2 linked regions of the Homo sapiens genome follow. The protein of the gene in region 1 interacts with the protein of each later gene in a pairwise test. Each region holds a gene or a part of one and is shown on either strand. Other genes may lie near its edges.

Region 1 (9,490 bases):
TCTTTCTTTCTCTGTGCCCCTCTCTCTGGGAGGCCTGCCAGGCTGCCTCTCCTCCCCTAGGCCAGCAGCCCTCAGTAGGCCTTGGAAACCGGAGTCCCCCCAACCCCCGAGCTAGCCCTGGCTCCCTCTTTAGCGTTCCAAGGTCTGAGGCCGCATCCCCCACTCCTTTCCCAGCGTCAGAAATGTTGTGGTAGAATCGTGGGGCCATGGCTTCCTTTGTGGCCCCGTAGGCGGAATCCCAGGCAGATTCCTCGCCTTCGTTCAGAAAAAGAGGAAACTCCAATTCCTTCCTCCTGCCCCAAGGCCCGCCCGTCTCGGCGCCGCCGACTTCGCCCAGACTCTCCCGCGCTACCCCATGGGGCCTGAGCTAGGGGAGAAACTCCGGCGGGCAAGGGCCAGATGTGCGGGAGGGTGCAGCGTGCCAGAGGGTGCAGCGTGCCAGAGGGTGCAGCCGGAGAAAGCGTCAGTGCGCGCGGAGAGGGAGGCTGCTCGAGAGTGTTGGGGACGCTTCACGTCCGTGAGCGTAAATGTGAAAAAACAAAACAAAACAAAAAGCCCATTGCGTAGTAACTAGAGTTGTGGCTATGGGAGAAGGAAAATTCTCTTTCTCACACACACCCATCTGCTCCTAATTGATTCCCCTTCCAGTGGGACCCGCGAAACCCCGCCGCAGCCGGCGCGGATTGATTTTCTCCTTCCAGGGTAGGGACCGGCTGCGCAAAGGCCGGGTGTCTGGGGGAGGAGACCGTCAGCAGGGCCGCGGTCTGGGGCCACAGACCCTCTGCCGGGAGCCCGGCTGGAGCGCTGCAACAAGGTGCGGGCTGTTCTGCATCCAGTCTCCAGGACAGAGCAGGATTCCATAAGCAAGAGTTTGCGCAAACAAAAAGCTCCCCAGGACTCACAGATCCCTGGAGCCTGGACTGCGTGGAGTGCACTAACCCGCCTGTTTGCCCAAGCGGCGGAATAGACCTGCCGCGTCTACACCGGCAGAGAGTGTGCCAACCAGAAAGCCCTGAAGCCTCCGGTAAAACAGAGCCAGGGCTCTTCAGCCCCATCCCAGCTATCGGCCTCGGTTGCTTCCAGCTCCCCGCAAGCCTAGCGGGAGCTCGCTCCTCCGAAAGGATCAGAAACCGCGAGCGGAAAAAGTATGTGCGCCCCACGAGAGGCCAATGAACCGAGAGCTGCCTGAGACCGCGCCGCTCGCGGGCGGCCGGCCCGCCCCGCTTGCTCACCTCCACTTTGTCCGCCGGTTCTGGAACCAGGTTTTGACCTGCGCATCGGTCATTTTGAGCGCCTTGGCCAGGGCGGCGCGCTCGGCCGAGGCCAGGTACTTCTGGCGGTGGAAGCGCTTCTCCAGCTCGCAGATCTGCAGGCGTGTGAAGGACGTGCGCGGCTTCTTCTTCTTGGGGGGCGTCCGGTTCTGATAGGGGTGACCTATACGGCGTGTTACAGTGAAGGGTGAGAGGGCCACTGGAGCGGGAGACAGACAGACGGCAGAGGCAAGCAGCAGAGCGTCAGGAAGCGTCCCAGGCCCAACACCCCGCGAGTCAGCGAGCGCAGCAGCTGAACCCCCACGAGCAGGGCCGAGATCCTCCCGTTAGCCCTCAGCGACAAGCCCACGGCGGGAAACGGCCTCCTCCTGCCCGCCAGTCCGACGCCGCCGTCGCCGCTACCACGGAGGCCTCCCTGGCCCCGGGCTCCCGCGAGCCCAACCACCTCCCTGCCGCCTCTCCTCCAGGGGCAGTCTAAGGCGAGCTAATGGTCACGCTCCCCTCCCCTCAGTCAGCCCCAGGCCTTCAGGCTCAGAGTAAGAGGCCGAGCCTGACTCTGGAACCCGACCTGAGCCTCCATCCACAGCAGCACACACCAACACAACGTACAACGGGGGCAAACTCACAGATCTATACACCCAAACAGGACCAGACAAGCACAGGCACGGGACAAGCACACAGGACACAGAGCAAAACAAGGCCACAGCCATACACTCGCTGAAACCGCCTTCATGCCTGACACAGTATTAGGGCCCCGCGGTAGGCCCTAAACCGAGTACCTTTCACCAGAGGCCCAGGATTAGTGGACTCCCGGCTGGGTTTCCAGCAGGGCCCTTCAAGACTGGCCTGGCCTGGGTGGGGAATGGGATGGGCACCAGGCCCTGCTGCCCCAGGCCAGAGAAAACTTAGGTTGGGGGCACTGGGACCCCTCTAGGGAGGGCCCTTCCTGAGGCCTAGACCCAAGCAACTGTTCTTCCTCTGGACACCAGCCTCCACACCACTTCTGCCGTGGCCCCAGAGTCTGGTAAGAAGCTGCAGAAGCAGTTTCCCTGGCTGTGCTGCTGCCTGGAACAGAAGCAGGAAGCCAGGGGTGCTTTGGAATCTCCTGGCCCAGTATCTAGCTCTCAGCAGCTTCTCCCAAGTAGTTATGTAAACCCCCCTTCCACTGTTGGGCCCTTGAACCGGGGGACCCCCAGGAGGCCCCATCTCTGCCAGCAGCAGCCAGTGCCTCCTGCCTCCTCTCTCTAAGATCGGCTGGCTAACCTGGGCTCAATTTGTGGCTGCTTCCCAGCCCGGACGGAAGGATCGTGGTCTAGGATCCAGGGAACCCTAAGGGGAGCAGAAAGTGAGAACGGGGGAAGGGATCCACGCCAGAGGGAGAGTTGAGTGCCCAGAGTGGAAACGGGAGCAGAGGGAGCCAGGGCCAGCAGAGGAAGGCGGGAGCGGGCAGCAGAGAAGGCGGCAGCGGCCACCACTTAGTACCCAATGTCCCGGGAGTAGTCTTCCCGCCACCGATCACCAGCCTACCGGTGCATTGTTCGTGCCCAAGATAACAGGGCTGGGCCCGGGGTAGGACACCCAGCCGGGAGAGAACGAAAATGAAAAGCTAGCTGTCCTGGGCGGCTAAGCCCCGCTGCCATCCTCCCAGATGAAGCCTGCTCTCCGGAAAAAAAAAAAAAGGCCACTGGTTCTGCTGATTTACCGGGGCTCAGAGCCCCCACTGGCCCCGCAGCACCACGGGCACCGGAGCTAGGGGCGCGAAGTGCATGTGTGTAGGGGACTGGAGGTGGGGGAACCTGTTCTTTTCTTGTGTCTGATCCTGGGGCTCGCTTCCTGGGTCCTAGAACAGCAGCCAGGACGGAAGAAACTGTTCACGTTGCACCCCTTTCTCTAAGATTCCCAGGCCAAGAGTAGCTGCAGAAGGTGGTCCTGAATCTATGGCCTCCTTCTCTCTGCCTGACCCGGCTAGTGGATCCGGAGAGGGGACCAGGGAGAGCTCCTCCGAGCAGGGGTCCTTCGGGAGACAGAGAGGGGTCCAGGCTGAGAGAACTCTTCAAGCATGGCGAGTCTGCGTTATAGAATCGGGCGGGCGGCTCAACTTGGGGGAAGCACCAAGAAGAGCTGGGCGACCTGGAGCGCAGAACCGGCTTTGGGGAGCCACCCGGCGGGGCAGGGGTAGCACGGAGCCCGGGCCGCGGCCAGGCGGGGAGCGCGCGGGCCGGACTCACCTGTGAACCTGTCCTTTGTGTATCTGCGGTTACTCTCCATCCAGGGGAAGGTGAGGCCAGTGAGGTTGTTGACGCCCGGCATGGCAGGCACAGAGGGCACGGTGGGCAAGCCGGTGGCCAGGGGCTGGGGGTGGGCCACGGCTCCGGCGAGCGGCCTGTGTGCCGGCACCCGGATTACCCCCGCAGCGCTGAGTGCCCCGGCACCGCCGCTGCTGCCGCCGCCGCCGCCAGGACCGGGGCCGCCTGCCAAGGCCATGTTCACGTTGTAGGAGCCGGTCAGAGGACCCATGCTGCAGGCGCCGCCGCCGCCTGCCGGGCCTCCGGGGCCGCCGGGACCTCCAGTACCATAGGCCCCCGCTCCTCCAGCCCCCGTCGCGGCCGCGGAGCCCCCGCCGCCGTAAGTGTAGGCGCCTCCGACCAAGCAGCCAAGGCCGTATTCTCCGTCCTGGAGGCGCGAGGCGGGTCCCATGCAGCCACCCTGGTCCGGGCTGTTGAGGATCTGGTCGATGCCGAAGCTAATGGGCTCTGCGTGACCCGGGTGGAGGTGGTGCGGACCCAGGTGCTCCATGCTGGCCCTGGCCCCACCGGGGGGCCCGGGCGGCGGCGCTCGCTGCGCTCGGCTCGGGGGGCAGCTAGCAGGGGCTGGGAGGCAACAGCGGCTCCTGGCTGCGCGGAGACTTGGAAGCGAAGTGCGCAGAAAGGCTAAAGTAGAAGGGGGAGGGGAGGGAGAGAGGGGGCGCCGTATTCTTCCCCTCTCTGGCTTCTGCTTCCCCGCTCCGGCTGCTCGCTCGCTGTTGACTCTGGGACATCAATCACCAGGCGAAAAAGCCCGGTGCAAGAGAGCTTCGCGGTTTCGACTGGGTCTCTCCATTGGCTGTGCGCGGAGAGGAGCGGGGTGAATGACAGCGCGAGGGAGGGGAGGGGAGGGGGAGAGGAAGGCCAGAAGCCGAGACAGATGCAGGAGCCAGAGATAGAGGGACGGAGACCAAGACTCGGAGTAGTTCATGAAGAGAGAGAAGAGGGGAACAAGGCGAGGCTTAAAAGGAAAAGGGAAAACAGGAAGCGACCATTCCCAGAGACGGACAGACAGACAAACCCAAGGAGGGTGAAGTCAACTGTCTTCCCGGCCTGTTGGGAGCCCTCCCCTCACTTTGAACTGGGCCAAAGGAGTCCAGCCCACAAGGCGTCTGAGGAAGGGATGTCTCTGCCCAACTGGAGAATCTCCTCAAGGGCTCAGCTGCGAAACACCTGTCACTCAACCAGGAGATTTACTCCAAATTTCAAGTCCAGCTTTTTAGAAAGTAGAAGACTGTCTACTCCCCAGGTATGGAGCCCAGGCCCTGAGGCAGGACGGTGAGTTCAGGCTTGCCCTTCTTTAAAACACAGGCCTATGAACAACTGGCTATATGTTATAAAAATCAGCAACCACCCCCCAACTCAGCCTTCTTAGACAAATTCAGGAAGGGAACATATCCTGAAAGGCAGGCACAAGTCAAGAGGGTTGGTTTGGGGTCTGCTGCCAGGGTGCCCATGCCTCAACATACCCCTTTGGTTTTAAATAAACAGATGCGTCAAGAAGTAAAATCCTACAGGGTTCGAAAGAGGCAATTCCTACAGTGTTTGAATGAATTCAACCAGATTGCATTCCACCTAACAATTACCCCAGGGTTGGCTATTCCAGACAAGAAGCCTTTGGACTGTGGTGTGTGTTCTTTTCTTACGTTTGGAATCTTGGGAGGGAGCCATAGGGGCTTAAGGCCGTGGGGGCTGGGATTGGTGGGACTAGGATCAGGGAAGTGCATCCAGGACAAATTTAGGCCTTTCCAACGTTTTGCCAGTGGCTGTCTGGCTGAGAGCCCAAGAGAAAAGGAGGAAACTCCCTTTTTCTTCTTCCTGTCTTTCCCCTCTCCAGTAGAAAATGTTTGCTACCTTTTAGAAGCCAAGCTTTGGGAAAGGCACAGGTTCCATCACTTGGGATCTATTTCTGTTCTATTTCAGTTCAGTTTCAGATTAGACTTTTGGGTAGGCCCTGTCTCTATCTGGAAAGATGCTAGGATGTGAAGACTCACATTCTCTCCCATCAAGTCTTATTGCAATCTATTTGCTTTGGGCATGTCTGTCACCTCCACTTGAAGAGATCTTCTTGGAGGCAGAGAGTGGCTTATTCATTTCTGTTCTCTCCTGAAGAATACAGCCCCAAACAACAAAATATGGTCATCTTGGGTGAATAACAAAGAATGTATCTCTTTATTCAATAATATTTATTGAGTACTGTACTCACTATGTGTCAGGCACTGTTCTAGGCATGGGGGACATAGCAGTGAACAAAACAAAGGTCCTGACCTCATGAAGCTTACATTCTATAGAGGGGGTCAGACAATAAGCAAAGAAGCAAATACAACAAGACAGATGTTAGTATTATGGAGAACAATATAAACTCTACACCAATCCTTCGAGATGAGTATTCTCCCTATTTTACAGATGTGAGGAAAGTACATTTCAGAATAGCTATGATTGGTGTGGATCAATATGGAGGAGCTAGACTCAACTTGCTTTTGTGGGTTAGCCTGGAAACCTACGTGCTGGTTGGAAGTTTGTATCTGTGGGGAAAACCTTGTCTGAGCTCTAGCCAGGTGGACAAAGGCCCACTCAAGACAAAGCCAAATGTGAAATTGGTAGTTGTTTGTAAACACTAAGCAGAAGGCTGGGCATGGTGGCTCACACCTGTAATCCCAGCACTTTGGGAGGCCAAGGCGGGCAGATCACGAGGTCAGGAGATTGAGACCATCCTGGCTAACACGGTGAAACCCCGTCTCTACCAAAAGTACAAAAAATTAGCCAGGCGTGGTGGTGGGCACCTGTAGTCCCAGCTACTCAGGAAGCTGAGGCAGGAGAATGGCGTGAACCCAGGAGGCAGAGCTTGCAGTAAGCTGAGATCGCGCCACTGCACTCCAGCCTGGGCAACAGTGCAAGACTCCATCTCAAAAAACAAACAAACAAAAAAAAACACTAAGCAGAAACATGAGAGGGCTCCGCTCCCTCGCCAGTTCTCTTCTTCCCACTTACCCAATCCAGGTACTCTACCCCTTCCCAAGGAGTTCCATAACTTACTTTGGAAGTTGTCTGAACCCGAATGAATCTCTTCCTGCCTCTTATCTTGAGGGAACTAAAGCAGAAATAAATTATTTATTGAAAGACAGTTTTGTGCCAGGTACCACATCATGCTTATCTCATTTAAGACTTATAACAACCCAGGCAAGTTAATAGAAATGTCCCAATTTTTTATAATTGAGAGAATTGAATGAATGTTCATGGCAGTATTATTCATGATAGCCCAAAAGGGGAAACAACTCAGATGTCCACCAACTGATGAATAGATAAACAAAATTTGTTATATCCACACATGGAATATTATTTAGCCATAAAAAGGAAAAGAAGGGAAATGCTGGTTCATGCTATAACATGGATGAACCTAGGAGACTATTCTGCTAAGTGAAAGAAGCCAAGCACAAAGGCCACATATTGTATGATTCCACTTTTATGAAATGTCCAAAATAGGCAAATCCACAGAGGCAGAGAATAGATTAGTGGTTTTCAGGAACTGGGGGCAGCAGGGAATGGAAATTGACTGCTAATGGATACAGAATTCCTTTTGGAGTGATGAAAACATTCTGGAATGAGATAGTGGTGATGGTTACATAACTTTTAAAAATATTAAAACCCACCGAATTATACATTTTAAAGGGGCTGAATATTATAGCACATGAATTATATCTCATTTTTAAAAAGAAAAAAATGGCTGGGTGCAGTGGCCCGTGCCTGTAGTTCTAGCAGCTCTGCAGGGTGAGGCTAGAGGATCACTTGGGGCCAGGAATTTGAGCCTGAGATGTGCTATAATTGCACCTCTAGCCTGGGCAACATAGCAATGCCCCATCTCTAAAAAGAAAATGAAAACTGAGACTCAGTAAAGAGAACAAACTTGCTCCAAGTTCCATAGACAGAGAAGATTGATCTGGAATCTCAAAATCTGAGCTATTTTCCTTGTTTGAGGCTGAAAACTATGGGGAAGGGTACTGCAGCTTTTTTTGAGGCTGGGTCCTAGTGGCCTCACTCCTTTTAGTCTCACCACAGTTTTACCTGCTGCAGTTAAAACCCCATCTTTTGGTGTGGGTTGGTTGAAGGTAAAATTTATAAAACTAAATAAAATAAAATAAAATAAAATAAAATAAACCACCTATCTTTCCAGGTGCACATCTCCAGCTCAGATGGCCTTCCAACCCTTTTGGCATTTGCCTGATCTACCTCTTGAACTCCTCAGATCTGGTATCAGTTGTCCAGGGTACCTGGGAGGAGACTTTACCATTCCTGGCCCAGCTTAAGGTTGGCAGAGTCACCACTCCCTTGTACATGGCCCACTAAGACTGTCAAGCTCTTCTCATTAAAATCCAGCAGCCCAGGGATATACTGACTTTCCCCTGCGATCACAGCCGCTTCCTTGACGGATTTCTTCCTTTTTCCCCTCCTACCTTTTTTGTTTATCAGAGTCAACTTTTATCCCAATTGGGGATACTCCCAACTTTTACCCTCAATGAGGTGCTGGGATTCTGTGAGTCAGCTTAATCCCAGCCTTTGTCTTCCAATAGGGTATTTACTGAGGGCCAAGACTACCCTCTCTGTCCCTTCCTTACCTAGAAAGATGAGACTGGAGGGTCAGGATTTGCTGGGCTCTGGCGCCCACCCCTTCTCCTGAGAGCAGTGTTACCTGAGCACGGTGTTGCAAGGTTGGGAAGTTTTCTGAAACAGGAGAGGAGACTCACACAAGTTTATATTCGCTGCAGCTTCTGTGTTTCCACCGTGCTTTTGCATGCCTTGCAAAACAGCCCTGATAGGAACGAGGAGGGAGGGGAAGAAAGCAGGACTCACAGAGCAACTGCCATGTGTGAGCCACCAGAATGATCTCTCCACTCATCTTTAATCCTGTGATGTGGTTTTTGTTATCCCCATTTTACAGATGAGAAAACCAAGGCACTGAAAGCTGGAAAGGGGCAGACCAGACGCAAACACTGCTTTCTTGACTCCACTCACTACAAGCTGCTTCCTTAAGCCTAAACTTGGCTCTTGCCTCACAGGACTATCTTGCAGGAACCTAGGTGAGTTGCAGATCCTTCTCTCTGGTTCTGAGGCCACCTGGTAACACCCCTCCCCCCAAGCACCGGCTCCCCCTGGCCTGCAGAATAAAAAAGTGCCTCCAATTAAAAGAAGAGCAGCTGGGGCCAGGGCCCGGGCTGGGGGAGGAGGAAAGGACGGGCTCAGCCCAGGGGGAGGCCCCTTTGGATCCCACACAATCTCCTCCTCTTCCCCGCTCTGAAAGAGACCCCCGGGCCAGGGGTTGTCCTTTAGCTTACGGATATGTGTGGAAACTTAATTACTTTGTGTTTGTGGGGCCGTGCATCCACGAGGGGAAAGCTGGATGGGAAAGCCTGTGTGACAGTCAGGATTGAGAGGGCTGTGCAGATGTCCTGGGCATGTCTTTAAGAAATAATTTTAACAATGTATTCAATGAATAATTATAGAGCATCTAGTATGTATCAGGCACTGTGTTAGGCTGTTGGGATACAACTGCAAGCAAAATGCATGTTGGGAAGAGTGTTGGAGGAAAAGAAGGGAGTCTGGGTATTTTATACAACTGGATTTTGTCATGTGAGGATGTATGTGTCAGTGAGAATGCAAGTGAATGTGTTTTCTGCAACAAGATGAGTATGTGTTTACAACTGTTCCTCTGTAGTGAGTGCCTGTGATGGGATGAGGGCATCCCTCTGCTACGACTGCGTGCTGCAGATGGCGTGTACCATGGGAGGAGTGTCTTTTATTCCGATGGAATTGTCAGAGAAGTGGCTGTGTATGGGCCTGTGGTCGTGGGGAGGGGGACACAGGGTATACCCAATGGATATATAGTAGGGAAAGGGGGCTGAGAAATATGTAAGGGGATGT
Region 2 (3,298 bases), on another chromosome or scaffold:
AATTGGAGACCAGCCTGGGCAACAGCATAGTGAGACCAGGAAGCAAAAAAAAAAAAAATGCTGTCACTCACATCTTATTCAGTGAAGGACTTCAGAGGCAAATGTTTCTACCTGACCCTCCTTTCTGCCCCACAGGTCTCCAACTGGTTTGGCAACAAGAGGATTCGCTATAAGAAAAACATCGGAAAGTTCCAAGAGGAGGCAAACATCTATGCTGTCAAGACCGCCGTGTCAGTCACCCAGGGGGGCCACAGCCGCACCAGCTCCCCGACACCCCCTTCCTCTGCAGGTGGATCCCACTGTCACCCCGGCTGACTGTTTTGCACACTTCCTGCTTTTGTTCCCACTTCCTATCTAGGCAGGATCATAGCAGAGAGGGGGCCTTTTGGGGTGAGAGGGACCGAGCTGAGATAGGCTGGAGATGTCAGGGGACAGAGGCCATTCCAGTGATCTTAGTTCTGCCTTTCTTCCCACGGGTGGCCAAGGAACAGCCTGCTCTTTCTGTGTGTTGGAATGTTATTTTGTGGATAATTGGAGTATAGTAGCATGTCCCCACAAGAGTTGAGAGTTGTGGTTCATCCTCTACCATCACGGGCTCTATTACACTCTTCCCTCTCTGCCCCCACAAGGCTCTGGCGGCTCTTTCAATCTCTCAGGATCTGGAGACATGTTTCTGGGGATGCCTGGGCTCAACGGAGATTCCTATTCTGCTTCCCAGGTCAGATGCCCATCTCCTCTCGAATAGGGCTTTCCCCAACTCCATTTCCTCTACTTTAGGATACAAGACCTCTTTCCTCTGAGGCTTCTCTTCACTGTCATACCTTCCTCTGCTGCCTGCAGGTGGAATCACTCCGACACTCGATGGGGCCAGGGGGCTATGGGGATAACCTCGGGGGAGGCCAGATGTACAGCCCACGGGAAATGAGGGTGAGTGGATCCTGAAGCTCCTCTCTGTCCAGTTCTCACAGGACAGAGGGGCATTTTCCCTAGTAATGTTGTGCCCACACAGGGTTCCCAGGGCTTTCTCTGTTTTCTGTACTCTGTCTCTCCTTTCAGGCAAATGGCAGCTGGCAAGAGGCTGTGACCCCCTCTTCAGTGACATCCCCAACGGAGGGACCAGGGAGTGTTCACTCTGATACCTCCAACTGATCTTGCCCCTCAGGGTCACAGGGGTGGGGGCTCTCACAAGGCGACTTGAAGAGGACGCAGGCTTCCAGAGGACAAACCCCAATACAGGAGAAGCACAAGACAGAGAAGGGCCAATGGGGTCATCCCCTCCCTAACGAGACTCTCTGTGCTGGGGGTGCTAATTACATGGCAGGAAGAATGGGGCCTCTAAGGGGAGTGTGGGGTCTGTCTCTCCCTTTTTTCCATCTTTTTCCTCTCTCGCTTTCTTTCTTACACAGAAACATACACATACCGAGAAACCTATTTCTCAGACCCCTTTTTCTCCTCTGTCTTTCTCTCTCCCTCTCCCACACCTCACACACACATACTCCCACTTGCAACTATTCTGTTTCTCTCCTGGGCTCCCCCACTTTCCCTTCCCCACCCCACTTGTATGCTCTGGAATCTGTGGAGACGCCAGCCCTGCCCAATCAGAGATGCCAAAAATGGGGACATGACTTCTGGACAGAGGACATGGGCCACGCCCCCATGCATCCCCACCCCCGCCCCTCCGGACGGCTTACTTACCTCATACGCAGCTCATCTTAAACCAATAGAATCGCTCGGTGGACGAGAGTGTCTGACTCAGATATCTACCTCGGAGGGAGTTTCTGCTACTTTAGGGAATTATTGACTGGGCTTTGGGGTTGAACTTTTTTTTTTTTAAAGAAAGAAAAAGAAACCCTGGGATCCATCTGTTTTTTTTGTTGTTGTTGTTGTTTTTGTTGTTGTTGGTGGTGGTGGTGGTGGTGGTTCTTAATTTTTAATTTAGTTTGGGGAAGTAGCTTGTTTTTTTTTTTATAAATATGTTGATTTCTTGTCTTTTTTTTTTTTTATTTCTTACTTTCCCATATTAGGGGTGATAGCCAAAGGGGTTCTGGTAAGAGAAAGGGGGACAAACAGAACTGGTAAAGAGGCCCCCCTGGCTCCAGGCCTGTCCATCAGGAAGTAAATTTTACAGGGCACCAAGCTTTGCCCCCTAAAATCCCTTAGGTGTTCTTTGTTCATGCAGGCAGGTTTCTGCCGCATTTGATGTGGAGGCAGTGAAGGGCTTGCCCTGCTGGCCTCTCATCCCCCTTCTTCCCACAACCCTTGGGCAGGGCTGGACTCAGTAATTTTGAGGAAATTGAAGATGCCATCTTCCCCTGTGAGTGACATGTCTTTAATTTTTTAAAAAACTACTATTTGAAAATTGGAGGGGGAAGAATGGGAAGGGAGTTATTGCCAAATATGTTAAATATGGGTTGGGGTGCTTGTATATGTATCTTCCTCAATTTCCCCATAAATGAGGTATCTTTTTGTCACACCAAAATCAAGGGGTAGGGAGAGGGAGGAGGTTGCAAAAAGCCAGATGTGGGGGAAAAGTAACATCAACACTGTCCCATCCTCAGCCCTGAACTAGCTACCATCTGATCCCCTCAGACATTCTCAGGATTTTACAAGACTGTCAGAGTGGGGAACCCCTCCCATTAAAGATCCGGGCAGGACTGGGGACAGGTTGGAAGTGTGATGGGTGGGGGGGTGGGAGGCATGGGCCGGGGGCAGTTCTCTCCTCACTTGTAAACTTGTGTAGTTTCACAGAAAAAAAACAAAATGCAGTTTTAAATAAAGAAATTTCTTTTTTCCCTGGGTTTAGTTGAGAATTTTTTTCAAAAAACATGAGAAACCCCAGAAAAAAAATGATTTTCTTTCACGAAGTTCCAAACAGGTTTCTCTCCTGTTCCCCAGCCTTGCCTTCATGATGCAGGCCCAATTGCACCCTTGCAGACAACAGTCTGGCCTGAACCCTATTGATGCAACTTTGCGCAATCAAGATGGGGCTCCAGTGGGTCACCAGGCAGCCCTGATGGACTGATGGAATAAATAGGATCGGGGGCTCTGAGGGAATGAGACCCTAGAGGGTACACTCCCCATCCCCCAGGGAAGTGACTGTACCCAGAGGCTGGTAGTACCCAGGGGTGGGGTGATAATTATTTCTCTAGTACCTGAAGGACTCTTGTCCCAAAGGCATGAATTCCTAGCATTCCCTGTGACAAGACGACTGAAAGATGGGGGCTGGAGAGAGGGTGCAGGCCCCACCTAGGGCGGAGGCCACAGCAGGGAGAGGGGCAGACAGAGCCAGGACCCTGGA

Evidence for each region. Proteins that work in one complex are often made in the same cells at the same time.
Region 2: the proteins of TLX1 (region 1) and PBX2 interact in binary tests that used the Homo sapiens proteins (3 or more experiments, as listed by UniProt).

Annotation. Positions count from the first base shown.
Region 1 is NC_000010.11:101,126,119-101,135,608, reverse strand, and holds the start of TLX1 (T-cell leukemia homeobox protein 1), read right to left. Parts: upstream 4,310-9,490; 5' UTR 4,068-4,309; coding exon 3,500-4,067; intron 1,471-3,499; coding exon of another isoform or gene 1,435-1,470; coding exon 1,233-1,434; intron 1-1,232. UniProt on the Homo sapiens protein: Controls the genesis of the spleen. Binds to the DNA sequence 5'-GGCGGTAAGTGG-3'.
Region 2 is NC_000006.12:32,184,233-32,187,530, reverse strand, and holds the end of PBX2 (pre-B-cell leukemia transcription factor 2), read left to right. Parts: intron 1-135; coding exon 136-289; intron 290-629; coding exon 630-718; intron 719-840; coding exon 841-927; intron 928-1,056; coding exon 1,057-1,149; 3' UTR 1,150-2,798; downstream 2,799-3,298. UniProt on the Homo sapiens protein: Transcriptional activator that binds the sequence 5'-ATCAATCAA-3'. Activates transcription of PF4 in complex with MEIS1.